Linked DNA regions of Homo sapiens. The protein of the gene in region 1 purifies or fractionates together with the protein of each later gene. This does not show direct contact. Each region holds a gene or a part of one and is shown on either strand. Other genes may lie near its edges. The genes, in order: TJP2 and KIF14.

The links.
Region 2: the proteins of TJP2 (region 1) and KIF14 purify together in Homo sapiens (affinity purification with mass spectrometry; 2 studies listed by BioGRID and IntAct, with this or other methods). This does not show direct contact.

Annotation. Positions count from the first base shown.
Region 1 is NC_000009.12:69,218,840-69,226,339, forward strand, and holds part of TJP2 (tight junction protein 2), read left to right. Parts: intron 1-2,047; coding exon 2,048-2,657; intron 2,658-6,464; coding exon 6,465-6,568; intron 6,569-7,182; coding exon 7,183-7,336; intron 7,337-7,500. UniProt on the Homo sapiens protein: Plays a role in tight junctions and adherens junctions. Acts as a positive regulator of RANKL-induced osteoclast differentiation, potentially via mediating downstream transcriptional activity.
Region 2 is NC_000001.11:200,589,405-200,596,904, reverse strand, and holds part of KIF14 (kinesin-like protein KIF14), read left to right. Parts: intron 1-3,135; coding exon 3,136-3,238; intron 3,239-4,664; coding exon 4,665-4,825; intron 4,826-6,632; coding exon 6,633-6,780; intron 6,781-7,500. UniProt on the Homo sapiens protein: Microtubule motor protein that binds to microtubules with high affinity through each tubulin heterodimer and has an ATPase activity. Plays a role in many processes like cell division, cytokinesis and also in cell proliferation and apoptosis.

The DNA.
Region 1 (7,500 bases):
ATCTGTGTTGCAAGATGTGTTCACTCCAGTGGGGCAGGTAGACACACACAGTGAGAATGGTAATAAAGTGTGCTTAGGGGCAATGCTAGTAGGCATATACCCACATATATGGTTGTGTGTGTGTGTGTGTATTTTTTTTTTTTTTTTGAGACAGAGTTTTGCTCTTGTTGCCCAGGCTGGAGTGCAATGGCACGATCTTGGCTGACCACAATCTCCGCCTCCTGGGTTCAAGCGATTCTCCTGCCTCAGCCTCCCGAGTAGCTGGGATTACAGGCATGCACCACCACACCTGTCTAATTTTGTATTTTTAGTAGAGACGGGGTTTCACCATGTTGGTCAGGCTGGTCCCGAACTCCCAACTTCAGGTGATCCGCCAGCCTTGGCCTCCCAAAGTGCTGGGATTACAGGCGTGAGCCACCTCACCCGGCCACATATATGGTATTTAATGTTTTTCAACTTTATATTATGAAGATTTTCAAAGAAAAAGGAAAGTTGAAAGATCAGTGTAATAAACATTTATCTTCTAAAATATTACTATTCTGCCATCTTTACTTGGTCTCTGTATGTATATAAACACTCATGTCTTTCTGGGCAACCATGCGAAGGAAAGTTACAGACATGACAGTTCATTTCTACTTACTTCACATGCATTTCCTATGAATGAGGACATTCATCTATATAATACTATTATCCGATCTAAGAAAAGTAATAATTTTACAGTATTATCTAAAATCCAGTCCATATCTCAAGATGTCTTTTTCATTTTTAGAGATGGGATCTTGTTGTGTTTCCCAGGCTGATCTTGATCTCCTGGGTTCAAGCGATCCTTCCACCTCAGCCTCCCAAGGTGCTGGGATTACAGGTGTGAGCCACCATACGCAGCTCTCAAAATGTCTTTGATATATGTTTTCTTCCCTATCCAGGATCCAAAGTTCACTCATTGCATTTAATCATTATCTCTTTAGTTCCTTTTAATCTAGAAGGGTTCCTCTTTCCCCTTGCCCCTCTACCCCACCCCCCACTTTAAAAATGGCATTGGGCCAGGTTCAGTGGTTCACGCCAGCACTTTGGGAGATGGAGGCAGGCAGATCACCTGAGGTCAGGAGTTCGAGACCAGCCTGGCCAACATGGTGAAACCCCGTCTCTACTAAAAATACAAAAATTAGCCAGGCATGGTGGTGTGCGCCTGTAATCCCAGCTATCGGGAGGGTGAGGCACGAGAATCGCTTGAACCTGGGAGGCGGAGGTTGCAGTGAGCTGAGTACAGTCCAGCCTGGGCAACAGAGCGAGACTTTGTCTTAATAATAAATTAAATAAATAAATAAATAAGGCATTGACTTTTCTTCCTTAAAATTTTAAAAATTTATGCATAATGCATAGTTATAGGGTATGTGTGATTAATTTAATACATTAATATGATTTGTAAAATTCAGATGAGATTGGGCACGTTCAGGATGGTATGGCTGTAGACATGATTTGTAAAATTCAAATCAGTGTATTTGGAATATCCATCACCTTAAATAATTGTCTTTTCTTTATGGTAGAAACGTTCAGATTATTTTCTTCCAGCTATTTTGGAATGTACAGTAGATTCCTGTAAGCTGTAGTCACCCTACCGATCTAACATTAGGTCTTATTTCTTCTATCAGACCATATATTTGTACCCATCAATCAACTTCTCTTTATCCGCCTTTGCCCCCTTGGCAGCTATGTATAGAATGTCACACTTTCTGGATTTTTGTTTTTTGAGTTTTATAACTTAGTGATTTGGGCCTCTGAGACTTTTCAAACTTGAGTAGAAGCAGATTTTGGAGATACTATTTTATTATTACCTTAATTCAAGGCCCTGTACTCAGAGCTTCACGGTCATTGTCCTATTCTAACCCTGTGAGATTTTTATTGTCCGTTTCCGGATGAGGAACCTGAACCTTAGTGAGTCGGCAGGGATACGGTTTTCCTGAAACCAGAACCAGGGCTCTTAACCACTGCCTTCTCCACATTCAGTTGTGATTGTCCTGCGTCCACACTGAGTTTGTTTTGACAACAGGTGGTCAAGAGGCCCCGGAAGGTCCAGGTGGCCGCACTTCAGGCCAGCCCTCCCCTGGATCAGGATGACCGGGCTTTTGAGGTGATGGACGAGTTTGATGGCAGAAGTTTCCGGAGTGGCTACAGCGAGAGGAGCCGGCTGAACAGCCATGGGGGGCGCAGCCGCAGCTGGGAGGACAGCCCGGAAAGGGGGCGTCCCCATGAGCGGGCCCGGAGCCGGGAGCGGGACCTCAGCCGGGACCGGAGCCGTGGCCGGAGCCTGGAGCGGGGCCTGGACCAAGACCATGCGCGCACCCGAGACCGCAGCCGTGGCCGGAGCCTGGAGCGGGGCCTGGACCACGACTTTGGGCCATCCCGGGACCGGGACCGTGACCGCAGCCGCGGCCGGAGCATTGACCAGGACTACGAGCGAGCCTATCACCGGGCCTACGACCCAGACTACGAGCGGGCCTACAGCCCGGAGTACAGGCGCGGGGCCCGCCACGATGCCCGCTCTCGGGGACCCCGAAGCCGCAGCCGCGAGCACCCGCACTCACGGAGCCCCAGCCCCGAGCCTAGGGGGCGGCCGGGGCCCATCGGGGTCCTCCTGATGAAAAGCAGAGCGAACGAAGGTAGGCATGCTTGATGTGGGAAGAAAAGCACTGTTGTGATATGAATAACCTTTGTTTTCTTAATTTTTTTTTTTCCCCCGAAAGTGTTGCTCTGTCATCCAGGCTGGAGGGAAGTGGCGTGATCTCGGCTCACTGCAACCTCCACCTCCCGGGTTCAAGTGATTCTCCTGCCTCAGCCTCCTGAGTAGCTGGGTCTACAGGCACCCGCCACCACGCCCAGCTAATTTTATGTTTTTAGTGGAGACAGGTTTCAACATGTTGGCCAGGCTGGACTTGAACTCCTGACTTGAGGTGATCCGTCCACCTGAATCTCTCACAGTGCTGGGATTACAGGCATGAGCCACCACGCCTGGCCAGGAATAGCTACTTTTTTTTTTTTTTTTTTTGAGACGGAGTCTTGAGTCTTGTTCTGTTGCCCAGGCTGGAGTGCAGTGGCGTAATCTGGGCTCACTGCAACCTCCGCCTCCCAGGTTCAAGCAGTTTTCCTGCCTCAGCCTCCCTAGTAGCTGGGATCACAGGCGTGCACCACCATGCCTGGCTGATTTTTTTATTTTTAGTAGAGACGGGGTTTCACCGTGTTGGCCAGGCTGGTCTTGAACTTCTGACCTCAGGTGATCTGCCCACTGCAGCCTCCCAAAGTGCTGGGATTATAGGCATGAGCCACTGCACCTGGCCAGCTAACTTTTTTTTTTTTTTGAGACAGAGTCTCACTGTGTCACCCTGGCTGGAGAGTGCAGTGGCATGATCTCGGCTCACTGCAACCTCTGCCTCCTGGGTTCAAGTGATTCTCCTGCCTCAGTCTCCGAAGTAGGTGGGATTATAGGTGCCTGCCACCACGCCCGGCTAATTTTTGTATTTTCAGTAGAGACAGGTTGGCCAGGCTGGTCTCAAACTCCTGACCTCAGGTGATCTGCCCACCTTGGCCTCCCAAAGTGCTGGGATTACAGGTGTGAGCCACCGCATCTGGCCGAGCTATCTCTTAATTGCACTTAACCAGCATTGTACCCAGCATTGACCTAAATGCCTAACACCAATTCGTTCGTTTAATCCTCAGAACTACCTCATGAGGGAGGACTCTTGTTTCTCCATTTTATAGACAAGGAAACTGAGGCACAAAAGGTTCATTGATATACACAAAGTTGTGTCATCATTGGAAGAGCCAGGCTTCAGAATTTTGGCTTTAAACTAGGAGACCAGTGGTTCTCAAAGCAGTGCATCACCTGGGCACCCCTTAGAAATGCAGACTCTCAGGCCCAACCCAGTCCCACCAGCTCAGAAACCATGGGGTGGAGCCGGGTGCAGTGGCTCACACCTGTAATCCCAGCACTATGGGAGGCCGAGGTGGGCGGATGACTTGAGGTCAGGAGTTGGAGACCAGCCTGGCCAACATGATGAAACCCCATCTCTACTAAAAATGCAAAAATTAGGTGGGCGTGGTGGTGGGTGCCTGTAATCCCCACTTCTCTGGAGGCTGAGGCAGGAGAATAGCTTGAACCCCAAGGGGCAGAGGTTGCAGTAGCAGAGATCATGTCACTGCACTCCAGCCTGGGTGACAGAGCGAGACTCTGTCTTGAAAAAAAAAAAAAAAAAAAAAAGAAACCATGGGGTGGGCCCTCAGAGTCTCTATGTTAATAAGCTCTCCTAGTGGCCTTGCTGCATCTCAAGTGGAAAACCACAGTGGAGGACAGTACTCCGCCTAATCATTGTTGAGTTTCTGCTCTATGCAAGGGCTATGTTGAATATTCTTTTACGTAGTCCTCACAAGAACCTTGTGTGTTAGGAGGCTTCGTTTCTGTTTTGTTTTGTTTTGTTTTGTTTTGTTTTGTTTTGAGACGGAGTCTCGCTCTTTCGCCCAGGGTGGAGTGCAGTGGCGCGATCTCGGCTCACTGCAGGCTCCATCTCCCGGGTTCACACCATTCTCCTGCCTCAGCCTCCCAAGTAGCTGGGACTGTAGGCGCCCGCCACCACACCCGGCTAATTTTTTGTGTTTTAAGTAGAGACGGGGTTTCACCGTGTTAGCCAGGATGGTCTCGATCTCCTGACCTCATGATCCGCCCACCTCAGCCTCCCGAAGTGCTGGGATTACAGGCGTGAGCCCCCATGCTTGGCCAATGAGTGCATTTTTTAAGAGGATTGAGGAATTGTTGAAAAATGCCAGAGAGATGTTATCACTCAAGCTTGTCTCACTCAGCCTTCTGTTCTGGGCTGTGAGGCTGTTTGACCACTAGGGGCTCGCCATCCATGAAAGTAGCTTTGCCCTTCCCTTATTCCATTCTTGACTATCAGCTTCCTAAAGGACTAGGGCATGGGCCACAACACTTCTAATCTTTGTGGTAAGATCTGGCTGACAAGTTTACCGTAAATCATTTAAAACTTATTTTAAAATTGACTTCATACCTTTCCTGAATTGTGGAAAGTTACTTTGTTTTGTAATTATAAGATTTTTAGTTTGAACAATAATAAAAAATTTTGTGCCTGTTTTAAAACCTGCTCTGTTGTGGTAGTTTCCTAAAATGTGAACAGTTATTCTTAAAATAATGTATTTTTACAAGTTTATTAAGTAAAACCAGAAGAGTCTTAAGTAGCATTGAAAGTATTTAAAAATATGCATAACTTAGTAATTACAATGTTTTTGTTTTTGATAGCAATTCAGAGTCCATAAACTCCCAAAGCTATGCTGGTTTTAGTTGAATGCTTTATTAATTACTTTGCCTGACTTCTTTACCCCTTTTCTTCACCCACTGAATTCCTTTCAATGCCAAGCTTCATATAATCTAAAATGCTAGATTTTTTGCAGTGCCTTCCTGTAGACAGCCTCATTGTCAGCAGAACATGCCTATTAAGGTGTGCTGAATTGTTTTTTTTTCTCCCCAACATTTTATTTGAAAAGTGTTAATTTGGCCAGGCGCAGTGGCTCACACCTGTAATCCTAGCACTTTGGGAGGCCGAGGCGGGTGGATCACCTGAGGTCAGGAGTTCGAGACTAGCCTGGCCTACATGGTGAAACCCTGTCTCTACTAAAATACAACAATTAGCTGGGCATGGTGGTGGGCACCTGTAATCCCAGCTACTTGAGAGGCTGAGGCAGGAGAATCACTTGAACCTGGGAGGCAGAGGTTGCAGTGAGCTGAGATCATGCCCCTGCACTCCAGCCTGGGTGACAAAGCAAGATTCTGTCTCAAAAAAAGAAAGAAAAAGAAAATGTTAATTTTATAGCAAATAAACATATAACCTTCATCTAGTTTTACCAGTTGTTAACATTTTGCCACACTTTCTTTTTCCTCCTCCTTTTTTTTTCTTTCCTTCTACTCCATCACCCTTCCTGTTACCTCTCTCAGTGGGTTTTTTGGTACTATTTAAGTAAGTTGCAGGCAACTCACCATTACCCATAAATATTTCAGAGGTATCTTCCAAAGATAAGAACATTCTCCTACATCAGTCACCGTAATACCATTATAACACTTAAGAAGATTAACATTAATATCCCTTTCATATATTATAGTTCATTTTCAGATTGCTCCAAATGATGTAACTCATTCTTCCCCCACCCTCCACTGGATCAGGGACCTATGGTAGTTCATGCATTGCATTTGGTTTTTATGTAACTTTTAATCTGGAACAGTTTCTCTACCTTTTTTGTTTTTTATGGCATTGACTTTTTTGAAGAGTTCAGGCCAGTCATCTTACAGAATTTCCCATATACAAAATTAACTTTTTAATACATATTTTAAAATAGTCCTATAAACCAGACTAAGTTTTTTGAACAAATTGATAACATACGTGTATGTTTATGTGTTTGTCTCCTAGAGTATGGTCTCCGGCTTGGGAGTCAGATCTTCGTAAAGGAAATGACCCGAACGGGTCTGGCAACTAAAGATGGCAACCTTCACGAAGGAGACATAATTCTCAAGGTGGGTAGATGGGGGCAGAGAACGGTAGTGTGCATACTGCCGTTCATCGCCTGCATGTCCACATTCAGCACCCACACAGTGAGACTTAGATCCAGTGAGAGTCAGTGGTAAGACAGAGGTGGCAAGAGCAGCATAATGAGACGATTTTTATCAGAAAAACCAGACATTGAGGGTCGTAACAGTTTAATGTCAGTTTAGAAAACAAAAACAAAAAAACTCCATGAATATTTTCTTCTTTCCTGTTTAAAGTTTAGATCCCTATTCCCTAAACTAAGGAAAGATGAGAAGGAAAGTTGGTGATATATGAATGCTGAATATTTAATAGGTCTTGTAAACCTCTCCAGTCAGGAAACACGTTCCAGTAGTAAACCAAACCGTTGTCTTGAGCTTGGAAGTTAAATAAATTAGCAGAGTAACTTACACCTGTATTTGGGATCCAGGCATGCAGGATTATATTTAATTTAAACGACAATTCATTTTTATTGAGTCATCCTAAAGCCAATATCTGTTTGAATATCTGAGCAAAGCCTTTACATTTTTAGAAGGGGAAAATATGAATTTTCTACTGTGAATAATTTTATTGCATTTAACATTACCATTTTTTATAAACACAGATCAATGGGACTGTAACTGAGAACATGTCTTTAACGGATGCTCGAAAATTGATAGAAAAGTCAAGAGGAAAACTACAGCTAGTGGTGTTGAGAGACAGCCAGCAGACCCTCATCAACATCCCGTCATTAAATGACAGTGACTCAGAAATAGAAGGTAAAGGAAGAGGAGGCTGTGAGCTTAGCTGGAAGTAAGGAAGGCTGTTGCTTCCCCATTCTTCTATTTAGTGTAGCTATCCAGCTGGAAGTTAAATTTCTAAGGAAAGACCCCTTGAAACCTTAATCTCCAAAGGTCACTGGTTGGTTGTTATTTGCTTATTA
Region 2 (7,500 bases), on another chromosome or scaffold:
AAAAAAAAAAAAAAAAGAGAGAGAGAGAGATAGAGTGTTCTGGCCAGGTGCGGTGGCTCACGCCTATAATCCTAACAGTTTGGGAGGCTGAGGCGGCAGATTACTTGAGACCAGGAGTTCAACATCAGCCTGGCCAACATGGTGAAACCTCATCTCTACTGAAAATACAAAAATTAGCCCGGCATGGTGGTGGGCACCTATAGTCTCAGCTACTTGGGAGGCTGAGGCATAAGAATCACTTGAACCTGGGAGGTGGAAGCTACAGTGAGCCAAGATGACTCTGCTATACTCCACCCTAGGCAATAGAGTGAGACTCTAACTCAAAAAAAAAAAAAAAAAAAAAGACTGTTGTACATTGAGGTCATAGAGATGTTCTAAATTTTCTTCTAGATGTTTTGAAGTTTTGCTTTCACATTTAAGTTATTGAATGTCTGGAATTTTTTATTTGGTGTGAATTAGGGATCTAAATTCATTTATTTTCCACATGAATAGCCATTTCTCCCAGTACCAAATATTAAATAGTTTATTGCTTCTTTTGGAATCTGTAGTGCTCCTACAAAAAATTTCTAAAAATATCAGAATCTGTTTCTTCCTACTAATACCCCATGGTCGTAATTACTTGAGCTTTGTAATGAATCTTTATTTATTTATTTTTTGATTTCAGAGTTTTGCTCTGTTGCCCAGGCTGGAGTGTAGTGGCACCATCTCAGCTCACTGCAACCTCCTGGAGTCGAGCAATTCTCCTGCTTCAGCCTCCTGAGTAGCTGGGATTGCAGATGTCTGTTACCACGCCTGGCTAATTGTTGTATTTTTAGTAGAGATGGGGTTTCACCATGTTGGCCAGGCTGGTCTCAAACTCCCACCTCAGGTGATCCGCCCACCTTGACCTCCCAAAGTGCTGGGATTACAGGTGTGAGCTACCACGACCGGCCTGTAATGAATCTTTATATCTTTTTTTTTTTTTTTTTTTTTGGAGATGGAGTCTCACTCTATCACCCAGGCTGGAGTGCAGTAGTGTGATCTTGGCTCACCGTAACCTCCACCTTCTGGGTTCAAGCGATTCTCGTGCCTCAGCCTCCTGAGTAGCAGCCACCATGCCCAGCTAGTTTTTTGTATTTTTAGTAGAGACGATTTCATCATGTTGGCCAGGCTCGTCTTGAACTCCTGACCTCAGGTGATCCACCCACCTTGGCCTCCCAAAGTACTGGGATTACAGACGTGAGCCACTGCACCTGGCCATGAATCTTTATATCTGTTAGGGCATATCCTTTTGTTCTTTAGGTTCTTTTGCTCTTTTATTAATTAATTATTTTCTTTAACAAATAAATACAGTATTATTAACATCTGTGGCAAAGATACAGAACATGCTCCCAAAGAGTTAAGAGTCCAGTAAGGAACTTGGAAGCCTCTTGCTTGCCTCTAACTCTCTACTTCCATTTTTCGTACCTTCCTCAGTTTATCTTGTTCACTAGACCATGAACTTTATGAAAGCTGATTTCATGTCTGTCTTCATTGCTGACACATAACTGGCTCTTGGAGGCTTAATGAATAAAAGAACTTCATGGCTGAGGCTGGTCATGTGAAAGAGAAAAAAAGAACTTCAGTATCTATTAATGCATATTAAGTGTTATGAGTACTGCATACTTACTGCTTAGAAGTGAAGAGAAGGAAGAGTTGACTTCTAACTTAAACCCTAAAGAACAGCTTCTTAGAGGACTCTAAATTGGGCCTTCAAGAATGGTTGCAAGAAGGGAGAGGATGTCCTATCTGGAAGGAATGACTCAAGGAAAGGAGGAAAGCTGACATTAAGGCAAATTCAGAGTATTCATATGGTTGATTAAGTGTGAAATGGGGTTCTTATGGGAAAATAGTGGCAGATGAGGGAGGTTGGTGGTTGAAGCCAGATTGTGGGGCGTCCAGAATGGTAGGCCATGGAATTTTGAGAGCAGAGTAGATAGAATTAGGAGAGGAAAGGGATCAGAACAAGTACACATTGTATAAACCTTCACCTGGATAAGACACTAGACTGGTAGGAGGGATGTAGTGCCTAAGGGTGAACTATTGTTTCCATGTACTTTTCTCTAGATGCTTTAATTAAACTATTATTCTCTAATCACAGATCTTGGAGCCTAATCCACAGCTAAAAAGATCTTTGGTTAGGACTCAGCTTTTGTTGCAGTTTTTCTTTCTATCCCGTTAATCCAAAGATGAATTGGACTTTGGAGTTTCTTTCCTATTCTCTGAATAAAAAGACTCAAATATGTAGCACTTATAGCTGATTTTCCACAGTATCACCTTATCATCCAGTAAATTAGATGTCTTAAGGGGTACACTTTGATCTCCATGTTTTTCCTTCCTCTGTAGTACCCTACTTTTCAAAAGGGGAGAAATATTTGTTCTTTCTGTTATTAAAGCTCATATGTAAAACCAGAAGCTTAGAAAATTAAAAAAACACTTAAAACTGTTTTATTCATAAGAAATCACTGGCAGTATGTTAATGTTTTTTGCTAGTTTTTTTTTTTTTTTTTTTTTTTTTGAATTTTTGGGGGAAGGTTTTTGTTTTCAAAGAAGTTATAATAAAAATACACCCAATGAAGAATGTTCCCACCACAGGTGGATCGGATTGCTAGAGGCCAGGCTTTTTTCACCAAACTTCAAAATCTAATTGGAGGCTCGATGCAGTGGCTCATGCCTGTAATCCCAGCATTTTGGGAGGCCGAGGCAGGTGGATCACTTGAGGTCAGGAATTAGAGACCAGCCTGGCGAACATGGCAAAACCCCATCTCTACTAAAATGCAAACATTAGCTGGGCAGGGCATGGTGGTGGGTGCCTGTAATCCTAGCTACTCAGGCAGCTGAGGCAGGAGAATTGCTTGAACCCAGGAGGTGGAGCTTGCAGTGAGCTGAGATTGTATCACTACACTCCAGCCTGGGCGACAGAGCAAGACTCCGTCTCAAAAAAAAAAAAAAAAAAAAACTAGTTGGAGGAAAATAAAATAATTTTAAATTATTGTTACATATTGGTATGAATCTTAACACCAAAGGAATAGCCCAAGCAGAATTATCCCATATTGCCTTTTTCTTACTTTTTAGTGTGTTCTATAATTGTTAACTATGTGCTTCTTATTTTAACAGTACTATCAAAAATTTTGGTGGGACAGTGAGTATTATCCCAGTTGGGGAAGCAAAGACATATGTAAATGGAAAACATATTTTGGAAATCACAGTATTACGTCATGTAAGTGGATGGGTGCTATAATATAAGAAACTGTTCGACTTTGGATAAGTCATTTAATTTCTTTGAGTTCTGGTTTTCTCTATAAGATAAGGGTGTTGAAGCAGATTAAGGACTTTTTCATTTCAAAAATTCTTTTTCCTATTAATTGCTTTCTTGTGCAAAGACAAAAGTTACATTTATATGAATCAGTACCTGAAGAGCTGACCACTAATAGCATCATTATGTGTCCTATAAAGAGCTAGGCTTTAGAATCAGACAGACAGGGTTGAAATCCTGGCTTTGCCATTTGCTCTGTGACGTCTGGCAAGTTATTTAACTAGATGATTAAACAATGTCACCCAAGTCAGGACACTTTTGAGATCATTATTAATAATTACATCAAGAGAACAAACATCAGCAGTGTGTTACAGGCAAACCCAGACCTATTGTGACTCTATATATCCTGCCTTTCAGAGATAGTGAAGGATTAACTGAAATAATAATTTGTGTATATAGTTCTTAGAATAGTATCTGCAAATAGTAAGCTCTCAATGAATGTCTCTTGTTATTATTAAGCTTTGTGCTGTTTAGTTTCCTCATTCCTAAAATTGGGATGATTATATGTATCTCACTGAGTTGTTGTGAATCGTAAATGAGATAACATAAAGTCTTGCACTTCATAATGATGTTTTGGGCAATGAGGGACCACATATGTAACAGTGGTCCCATAAGATTATAATACTGTATTTTTACTGTATTTTTTTCTGTTTAGATATACAATTATTTACCATTGTGTTATAGTTGCCTATGGTATTCAGTACAGTAACATGCTGTACAGGTTTGTAACCTAGGAGCAATAGGCTATGCCATATAGCCTAAGTGTGTAGTAGGCTATACCATCCAGGTTTGTGTAAGTACATTCCATGATATTCACACAACTATGAAATCACCTAACAGTGTACTTCTCAGAACATATCCCTGTTGTTAAGAGACATATGACTATATGTGTAATGTGCTTAATGCAGTGTTTGGTATATACAAAGTAATAAACGTTGGGAGGCCAAGGTGGGTGGATCATGAGGTCAGGAGTTCGAGACCAGCCTAGCCAACATGGTGAAACCCCATCTCTACTAAAAATGCAAAAATTAGCTGGGTGTGGTGGCACACGCCTGTAATCCCAGCAGCTCGGGAGGCTGAGGCAGGAGAATTGCTTGAACCCGTGAGGCCGAGGTTGCAGTGAGCTGAGATTGTGCCATTGCACTCCAGCCTGGGTGACATAGTGAGACTCTGTGCCAAAAGAAAAAAAAAGTAATAAATGTTAGTTGCTATGATGTTTATGTTTATCATTAATACTAGACTATATTGAATTGTTGGGCAAAATAAATTTTCTCATTTAATTTTTTGGTTGAGACTCACCTCAAGTAGTACATTTTTTTGTGTGCTTTAGGGTGATCGAGTGATTCTTGGTGGAGATCATTATTTTAGATTTAATCATCCAGTAGAAGTCCAGAAAGGAAAAAGGCCATCTGGAAGAGATACTCCTATAAGTGAGGGTCCAAAAGACTTTGAATTTGCAAAAAATGAGTTGCTCATGGCACAGAGATCACAGTAAGTATGCTGTTGATATGAAATAGTAAGTGTATGAGAGAGATCTACAACAGAGTTAATCACATTGTGCCAGTCTCTAGTAATTAACTCTTTGGGTGCTGGTTTCTAGTGATATAATTTTTTCTCTTAGTACATTCATTAGTTCACCAAATATATATTGACCATCTATTATGTGTCTGTCACTGTACCAAATGCTGGAGATATAAAGAATAAGGATTGAAATTTAGCTCATGTGCTGAAAGAATTCATCATCTCGAGGGGCTGACAGTTATAACAGTGCTATGACACAGTTCTCTGACAAGAGTCCCGAACTGTGTGGTGTGGAAGCTCACGGGGTGACACCTGGCCCTGACCGGTTATCAGGGAAGGTTTCTAGAAGATGAGAAGACGTCCCATAGAGGAGAATCCCAATAGACGATTAGAATTTAGCCAGAGGAAGACTGGGAGAGTGTACTTTTGTTTTTCTTTTCTTCTTGTGCCCCAGTTTTAGTTCATGCAGTATCGTAGGATTTCTGGCATAAGTAGTATCCTTGTAAGCTAAATGGTAAAGTATATACAAATAAAATGCTAAAGAGTTTGGACTTTATCTTAAAGGATAAGGGAAACATTAAAGAATTTTGAGCAGACGTGAGACACTCATAATCAGAATTACATTTTTAGAGAGATCACTGGCACTCAAATCTGGAGAATGCATTAGAGATAGAGCAAGCTTAAAACCTGCAAATGCAGCTAAGAGACTATTGAAGTAAGGTAAATATAGTGTGATTAGGTAGGAAGGAAACATAAAGGAGATAAGATTGACAAGGCCTGGTGACTAAAGAGGATGAAAGGAGGAGGAATCAAGAACTGGTTATAGGCTAGACTAACTGCTTTGTCACCTTTTAAGAAGCCTCAACCTGCTTTTGCCCTTTAAAAAGAATTTTTTTAATTGAATACAATATAAATAGCACAAAATTTACCATGTTAGCCATTTTTAATTGTATAGTCCAAAGGCATTAAGTACCTTCACATTGTTTTGTGGTTTTTTTTTTGTTTGTTTTTTGGTTTTTTTTTGAGATGGAGTCTGGCTCTGTCGTCTAGGCTGGAGTACAGTTGGCATGATCTGGGTTCATTGCAACTTCCACCTCCTGGCCTCAAGCCATCCTCCCACCTTAGCCTCCCGAGCATGTGAGACTATAGGCGCACACCACCACGCCTGGCTAATTTTTGAATTTTTTTGTAGAGATGGGGTTTCACCATGTTGCCCAGGCTGGTCTCGAACTCCTGAGCTCAAGCAGTCCACCTGCCTTGGCCTCCCAAAGTGCTGGGATTACAGGCGTGAGTCACTGTGCCCACCCTAGTGCCTTCACGTTGTTGTGCAACCATCACCATCATCCATCTCCAGAAATGTTTTATTATTCCAAACTGAAACTCTGTATTTGTTAAACAATAGCCATTCTCCTCTCTCCCTAGCTGTGATATCCACTAACCTTCTTTTTTATACTCTTATTCTTTTTTTCAGTAAAATTGGGAATGGAAATTTCTGTATAATGTAGTTACTAAAGCACTGATTTTATTTAAATGTCAGGCATCTGCAATAGTAACTAAGTTAGAAATAAGCAATTTTTCGTCCTGCGTGTTTAAATTTTGAGTGTAAACAATTGTAGAGCCAGTGAAAATTTTAAAAACACTGTTGATAGAATGTCAGAAATCAAGTTTTAAGATTGAAACTTTCATTCAATGGAAAACTTTTCAGTAGGATTAAGAACTATTATGATGTATAAAGAATTCTTAACATGTACCCTATAAACATCTTGCTACATTGTAGACTTGAAGCAGAAATAAAAGAGGCTCAGTTGAAGGCAAAGGAAGAAATGATGCAAGGAATCCAGATTGCAAAAGAAATGGCTCAGCAAGAGCTTTCTTCTCAAAAAGCTGCATATGAAAGCAAAATAAAAGCACTGGAAGCAGAACTGGTAAAAGGCAGAATTAGTTTTATTTTTTTTTTCCGACAGTGTACCCCAAGTGATGTGTTGCCTATAAAGTTGATTATGTCCCTATAAGGGAACTGGGAGAGATCAGAGATTAGTGAATCAAAGCCACAGTGAGTCTTGGCCCTCTTTAATTTTACTTTAAGAAATAAGTCAGGGCTGAGCATGGTGGCTCATGCCCGTAATCCCAGCTCTTTAGGAGGCCAAGGCGGGCAGATTACTTGAGCCCAGGAGTTCAAGACCAGCCAGGGGCAATGTAGGGAAACCGGTCTCTCCAAAAAGTTTAAAACATTAGCTGGGTGTGGTAGCATGCGCCTGTAGTCCCAGCTACTCAGAAGGCTGAGCTAGGAGGATCATCTAGCCCAGGGAGGTCAAGGCTGCAGTGAACCTTGACAGAGTGAGACTCTGTCTCAAAAAAAAAAAAAAAAAAAAAAAAAAGAAAAAAGTTGGTGGCGATAATAGACAATGGCTACTGGAATAAAAATAAAGAGAAACTTCTGTCCTCTAGCCGCTTGAGTCATGGCTGTCTCCATGGTTTATTGGAAATCTTGGGTTCCCAGAAGCCCATTTTAGATAATACTCTTAAGTATTTTTAGTTAACCTGAATGAAGTGGAGAAGCTTTAATAGGGCAACTTTTCTATTAGTGAGTAATTTCTTGTACATTGGTTAAAGAAAGGGACTTTTGTACTTTTTTGCTACGGTTT